2 linked regions of the Homo sapiens genome follow. The protein of the gene in region 2 interacts with the protein of the main gene of each other region in a pairwise test. Each region holds a gene or a part of one and is shown on either strand. Other genes may lie near its edges.

Region 1 (3,823 bases), on a different chromosome or scaffold from region 2:
GCCATTCTCCTGCCTCAGCCTCCCAAGTAGCTGGGACTACAGGCACCCGCCACCACGCCCAGCTAATGTTTTTTTTTGTATTTTTAGTAGAGACGGGGTTTCACTGTGTTAGCCAGGATGGTCTCGATCTCCTGATCTTGTGATCTGCCCACCTTGGCCTCCCAAAGTGCTGGGATTACAGGTGTGAGCCACTGCGCCCGGCCATAAGACCTCATCTTTACAAAAAAATCAAAAAATTAGCCAGGTGTGGTGGTGCACACCTGTGGTTCTAGTTACCCAGAAGTCTGAAGTAGGAGGATCAGCTGAGCCTGGGGAGGTTGAGGCTGCAGTGAGCTAAGATCATGCCACTGCACTGCAGCCTGGGTGACAGAACAAAGACCCTGTCTCTCAAATATATATATGTGTGTGTATATATATATATATCCTTCTTTTTTGAGATGCAGTCTTGCTCTGTCTTCTAGGCTGGAGTGCAGTGGTGCGATTTTGGCTCACTGCAACCTCCACCTCCTGGGTTCAAGCGATTCTCCTGCCTCAGCCTCCCAAGTAGCTGGGATTACAGGTGCATGACACCACGCCTGGATAACTTTTTTTGTATTTTATTTTTATTTTTTATTTTTTATTTATTTTATTTTATTTTGAGACAGAGTCTCGCTCTGTTGCTCAGGCTAGATTGCAGTGACGCGATCTCGGCTCACTGCAAGCTCTGCCTCCCGGGTTTACGCCATTCTCCTGCCTCAGCCTCCCAAGTAGCTGGGACTACACGCTCCCACCACCACGCCCAGCTAATTTTTTTTTTGTATTTTTAGTAGGGGTTTCACTGTGTTAGCCAGGATGGTCTTGATCTCCTAACCTCGTGATCACCCATCTTGGCCTCCCAATGTGCTGGGATTACAGGCGTGAGCCACCTCGCCCGGCCTTTTTTTTGTATTTTTAATAGAGACAGGATTTTGCCATGTTGGTCAGGCTGGTCTCCAACTCCTGACTTCAAGTGATCTGCCCGCCTCAGCCTCCAAAAGTGCTGGGCTTACAGGCGTGAGCCACCACACTCGGCCTAATAGATCCTTAATCGTTTCATGCCTCAGTTTCCCCAGCTATGAAATGGGAGAATAGTCCTTCAGCTGCCTCAAAAGATTGCTGCATGGACATAATGAGGGAATACGTAGAAAGTGCTCAGGCCGGGCTCAGTGGCTCACGCCTGTAATCCCAGCACTTTGGGAGGCCGAGGTAGGTGGATCGCCTGAGGTCAGGAGTTCGAGACCAACCTGGCTAACATGGTGAAACCCCATCTCTACTAAAAATACATAGCTGAGTGTGATGGTAGTCACCTGTAATCCCAGCTACTCAGGAGGCTGAAGCAGGAGAATCGCTTGAACCGGGAGGCAGAGGTTGCAGTGAGCTAAGATCGTGCCACTGCACTCCAGCCTGGGCAACAGAGACTCCATCTCAAAAAAAAAGAAAAAAAGAAAGTGCTCAAGGCAGGCACATGGTGAGTGTTCTATAAATCTAGCAGTTGTTGTTCTAACGGGGCCCATGACAGAGAAGAAAGGGGAAGAGGCCACACAGCATCCTGGCAGTTGAGGGGAGCTAGGATAGGGACCCTGTATCCTGATGACCCAGCACCTCCACCTGGCTAGGGGAGTTGAACTTGGAGGCCGAAGGCTGACCTCAGCTTTGCTCTGAAACAGATTCGCCACTTGAGAGAGAGAGGCCTGGAGTTCTTATCTGTTCCCTCCACGTACTACAAACAACTGCGGGAGAAGCTGAAGACGGCCAAGATCAAGGTGAAGGAGAACATTGATGCCCTGGAGGTGAGGCCCAGGCAGGATCCGCAGCCTTGTGGGGGGAGTATGAGCTCTGCATTGCATCTTTTCAGAAATATTGTCTCAGCCCGGAGGGGAGCCCAGACCAAGTCCCTGCTGGCAAAGGACATTTATTCTAGGGTCTATGTGGGAGGAGGAGACAGATGACAAACAAATAAACAATAAAAGCACGGTCAGAGATAGTCAGTGCAGGAAGTTCAAACAGGCAGCCTGGGGCTGCTTTACAGAGACTGGTCAGGGAGGGCCTCTCTGAGGAGGTGACATCTGAGTGAAGTCTAGATCATGAGCGGGAGCTGGCCATGTGAACAGCGGGAAGAAAGGCATTCCTGGCAGAGGGATCAGCAAGGGCCGAGGTAGGAGCATGCCCTGAGCGTCTGAGGAACAGAAAGAATAGGCTAGAGTGGATGGGAGGCTGTTTTTGAGCGATGACCTAGGTCAGACAGGTAAGCAAGAGCCAGTTCCTCTTGTGAGCTATTATTCAGGAATCTGGATTTTGTTCTTTTGTGACCAGAAACCACTGGAGGGTTTTTTGGTTTGGTTTTAGCAGTGTTATTGACATATGTCACATAACATGTCATTTTTTTAAGGTGTACAATTCTATGATTTCTAGCTATTTGCTATGTTGTGCAACTATCATCAAAATCCATTTTAGGACTGGGTGTGGTGGTTCATGCTTGTAATCTCAGTACTTTGGGAGGCCGAGGCGGGCGGATCATGAGGTCAGGAGTTCGAGACCAGCCTGACCAACATGGTGAAACCCTGCCTCTACTAAAAATACAAAAATTAGCCAGGCGTGGTGACACATGCCTGTAATCCCAGCTACTCAGGAGGCTGAGGCAGGAGAATCACTTGAACCCGGGAGGCGGAGGTTGCAGTGAGCCGAGATTGCGCTACTACATTCCAGCCTGGGCGACACAGTGAGACTCTGTCTCAAAAAAAAAAAAAAAAAAAAAAAAGATCCATTTTAGGACTAGGTATGGTGGTTCATGCCTGTAATCCCAGCACTTTGGGAGGCCAAGGCAGGTGGATCACTTGAGGTCAGGAGTTTGAGACCAGCCTGGTCAATATGGCGAAACCCCCATCTCTACAAAAAGAAAAAAAAAAATTAGCTGTGCGTGGTGATCTGTGTCTGTGGTCCCAGCTACTGGGGAGGCTGAAGTGGGAGAATCACTTCAACCCAGGAGGTAGAGGCTACAGTGAGCCATCATCAGGCCACTGCACTCCAGCCTGGGTGATACCCTGTCTAAAAGAAAAACAAAAACAGTTAGGCCAGACACAGTGGCTCACACCTATAATCCCAGCATTTTGGGAGGTTGAAGTGAGAGGATTGCTTGAGGCCAGGAGTTTAAGACCAGCCTGAGAAACACAGGGCGACCCTGTATCTACAAAAAAAACAGTTTTAAAAAATTAGCTGGGCATGGTGGTTCGTGCCTGTAGTCCCAGCTACTCAGGAGGCTGAGGTGAGAGGATCACTTGAGGCCAGGAGGTCAAAGCTGCAGTGAGCCATGATCAGGCTACTGCATTCCAGCCTGGGCAAAAAATCAATTTTAGAACATTTTTGTCACCCCAAAAAGAAACCTTGAGCCTCTTAGCCAGCACCTCCCAACCCCCTCTGTTCCCTTCCCCCCTCCCACCCCAGCCCTAGGCACCATTAATCTACCTTCAGTCTCTATAGATTTGCCTATTCTGGACATTTCATCAAAAGGAATCACAAAGTCCAGGCACGGTGGCTCATGCCTGTAATCCCAGCACTTTGGGAGGCTGAGGTGGGCGGATCATGAGGTCAGGAGTTCAAGACCAGCCTGGCCAACATGGTGAAACCCTGTCTCTACTAAAAATACAAAAATTAGCTGGGTGTGATAGCAGATGCCTGTAATCCCAGCTACTGGGGAGCCTGAGGCCGGAGAATTGCTTGAACCCAGGGAAGGGGAGGTTGCAGTGAGCCGAGATCGCGCCATTGCACTCCAGCCTGGGCGACAGAGTGAAACTCCATCTCGGAAAAA
Region 2 (2,987 bases):
AAATAATACATATAAGAGCAGAAATAATGATAAAGAAAAGAAAGATATAATAGAAAGGATCAACAAAGCCAAAAAGTGGTTCTTTAAGAAGATTAATAAAATTAATAAACTTCTGGCAAAGACAGATAAAGAAAAAAAAAAGAAGCCCAAATAAATCATATCATTGATGAAAAGGGGGGACAGATATAGCAGAGATTAAAAAGATGTCTACAAATGTGAAAATTTACATGCAAATTCTGCAACACTGTAAATGGCCAAAACTGCTGAAGACTAGAAAGTTTAAATGAGGTTTCATGTAATAGCTGGCCATAACTGTTGAAAAAAATAAACTGTATAAAAGTGTATGAAGTCAGCTGGGCACGGTGGCTCACAGCTGTAATCCCAGCACTTTGGGAGGCCAAGGCAGGCGGATCATGAGGTCAGGAGATCGAGACCGTCCTGGCTAACTCGGTGAAACGCTGTCTCTACTAAAAATATAAAAAAAAAATTAGCCGGGAGTGGTGGCGGGCGCCTGTAGTCCCAGCTACTCAGGAGGTTGAGGCAGGAGAATGGTGTGAACCCGGGAGGCGGAGCGTGCAGTGAGCCGAGATCGCGCCACTGCACTCCAGCCTGGGAGACACAGCGAGACTCTGTCTCAAAAATAAAAAACAAAAACAAAAACAAAAAAAAGTGTATGAAGTCAGAAGTAGGCTTTGAAAAATGAAATAGTTGGAGATTTTAACTTTACCTGCCCCCACTAGGCAATACGTTTTAATGTATAAACTGTTAAGAAATAAGTGAACAAAATCACACCAAAGGAAATCTGCCTATTTTATTTCCATTAGAAAAATATTATCTATATAACATTTTGTTCCACTATCTTCTCCTTGATCTCAAATTTAAACACTTTAATTTTACTCAAGTAAAAGCAGAATCACATAACGGACATCAAAACTAAATAGTTCACATCATTAGTTTAAATTAAATATGTTCTTGATTATTTCTCAGGAATAGTAACTCTTCTTTCCTACCTGGTATTTCTCTTTTGTTTACTGAGTAACTATGTAATGGGTATCTCTTTCCTATATTCAGTAATACAGGTGCACACAGGTGTAATTTAAAAAAGTAACTGGATTCCTTCTCTAATATTCATGTTCAACTCTCCCTATTACATGGTATTTCCATAATAGCTTCAGATATTTTCATCAAACTCACACTGTCATCAATTGTGAAAATTAAAAGGTTAATTAAGATGTTACATCAATTGTAAAAATTAAAATGTTAACAATTCCAGACTACACAGCACTGGGCCCACTTATAGTGATGCCGTTGTCAGTGGTCCTTGGATAGCTACTGCTTCAATTTCAATTCGGCTGCCCTGTGAGGAAAATGAAAGAATTTGTTGTAATCATTTTGTACAAATTGCAAACTCTATAATACCTACTAAAAACATGCAACCAACAGCAATATAACATTTTTAACATTAAACTTTTCAAGGAAGGAAAGGAGAAGGAAATATTCACCAAGAACCTATAACAGACCAGGTTACCATGCTAGGTATATTCATATACTATATTAGCTTATGTGATTCTCACAGAAGCCCTATTAGAGACGTATTTTCCCCTCAATTCACAGAATGATATGCTGAAGTGTAGAAGGAGTAATTAAGTCATCCCAAGTCACAAGCTAGATAGCAGAGGTTGAACCCTTGTCTTGTGATTCCAAGTTCAGAGCTCTTTCTACTACACCCAGTACCTTAATAGGTTTGATAATGATCATTCCAAGTAACAACTAATTAAAGCAATACAAATGACACTCTTAAAACATAAATTTTCTTTAGTAGAAACTGCAAGTGGAAGTCAGTAAGAGCTGCTTTTTTATAGGCAGGAATATTGTGCTGCTAAGCTTTGAGTTAAAAGTAGCAAAATCAAAATGGTGAGAAATATGTGTGCCCCTGGTTTAGAGATTATTTTTCTAGTGGAAGGCTTAGATTTTTAATTGTACAATATCCAGGTGAAATTTTTACTGCAGAACTCACAAACAAACCTGGCTCAAATTTATAGTCCCCTAAGTAACACTACAACAGTACAGCTGCTATTTTATTTTTTCTCACAATTTTTTTTTTTTTGTGATGGAGTCTCGCTCTGTCGCCCAGGCTGGAGTGCAGTGGCGCGATTTCGGCTCACTGCAAGCTCTGCCTCCTGGGTTCATGCCATTCTCCTGCCTCAGCCTCCCGAGTAGCTGGGACTACAGGCGTCCGCCACCACACCCGGCTAATTTTTTTTTGTATTTTTAGTAGAGACGGGTTTCACCATGTGAGCCAGGATGGTCTCGATCTTCTGACCTTGTGATCCGCCCGCCTCGGCCTCCGAAAGCGCTGGGATTACAGGCGTGAGCCACCGCGCCTGGCCTTTTCTCACAATTTAAGTATTTTGATTCTGATTCTATGTTCATGTGCTGTCTTAAAAGGTTTCTTAATTTTTTTTTCATGCATGTAATATGGGATATTTCCTTTCAGACTTTAAGTCCCTGGGGAAGCAGGGTCTATTTCTTTTCTTTTTTTTTTTTTTTTTAAGAGACAAGGTCACACTGTTACCCAGGCTGCAGCACAGTGGTTCGATTATAGCTCACTGCAGCCTTGAACTCCTGGGTTCAAGTGTTCCTCCCACCTCAGCCTACCAAGTAGCTGGGACTATAGGTGTGCACCACCACCATGCATGGCTAATTTTAAATTGTTTTTGTAGGGATGGCTGTCTTGCTATGTTGCCCAGGCTGGTCTAGAACTCCTGGCCTCAAGCGATCCTCCTGTGTTGGCCTCTCAAAGCACTGGGATTACAGGGGTAAGCCACCCTGCCCAGGCTACTTCTTTTAAGTTTCCTTTCACAGTGCTTAGTTTACTTATAGAAGGAAAACAATGTAGAAACTGAAAACTGTGTACATTAGTCATTTAAAGTGTACTTACTTTGGGTAAAGCAGCAACTTGGTAAGCAGCTCTAGCAGGAAAATTA

The links.
Region 1: the proteins of RIDA (region 2) and HPD interact in a two-hybrid assay, tested with the Homo sapiens proteins (one large-scale study listed by BioGRID and IntAct).

What each region holds. Positions count from the first base shown.
Region 1 is NC_000012.12:121,841,695-121,845,517, reverse strand, and holds part of HPD (4-hydroxyphenylpyruvate dioxygenase), read left to right. Parts: intron 1-1,685; coding exon 1,686-1,808; intron 1,809-3,823. UniProt on the Homo sapiens protein: Catalyzes the conversion of 4-hydroxyphenylpyruvic acid to homogentisic acid, one of the steps in tyrosine catabolism.
Region 2 is NC_000008.11:98,101,548-98,104,534, forward strand, and holds the end of RIDA (2-iminobutanoate/2-iminopropanoate deaminase), read right to left. Parts: coding exon 2,942-2,987; intron 1,358-2,941; coding exon 1,295-1,357; 3' UTR 797-1,294; downstream 1-796. UniProt on the Homo sapiens protein: Catalyzes the hydrolytic deamination of enamine/imine intermediates that form during the course of normal metabolism. May facilitate the release of ammonia from these potentially toxic reactive metabolites, reducing their impact on cellular components.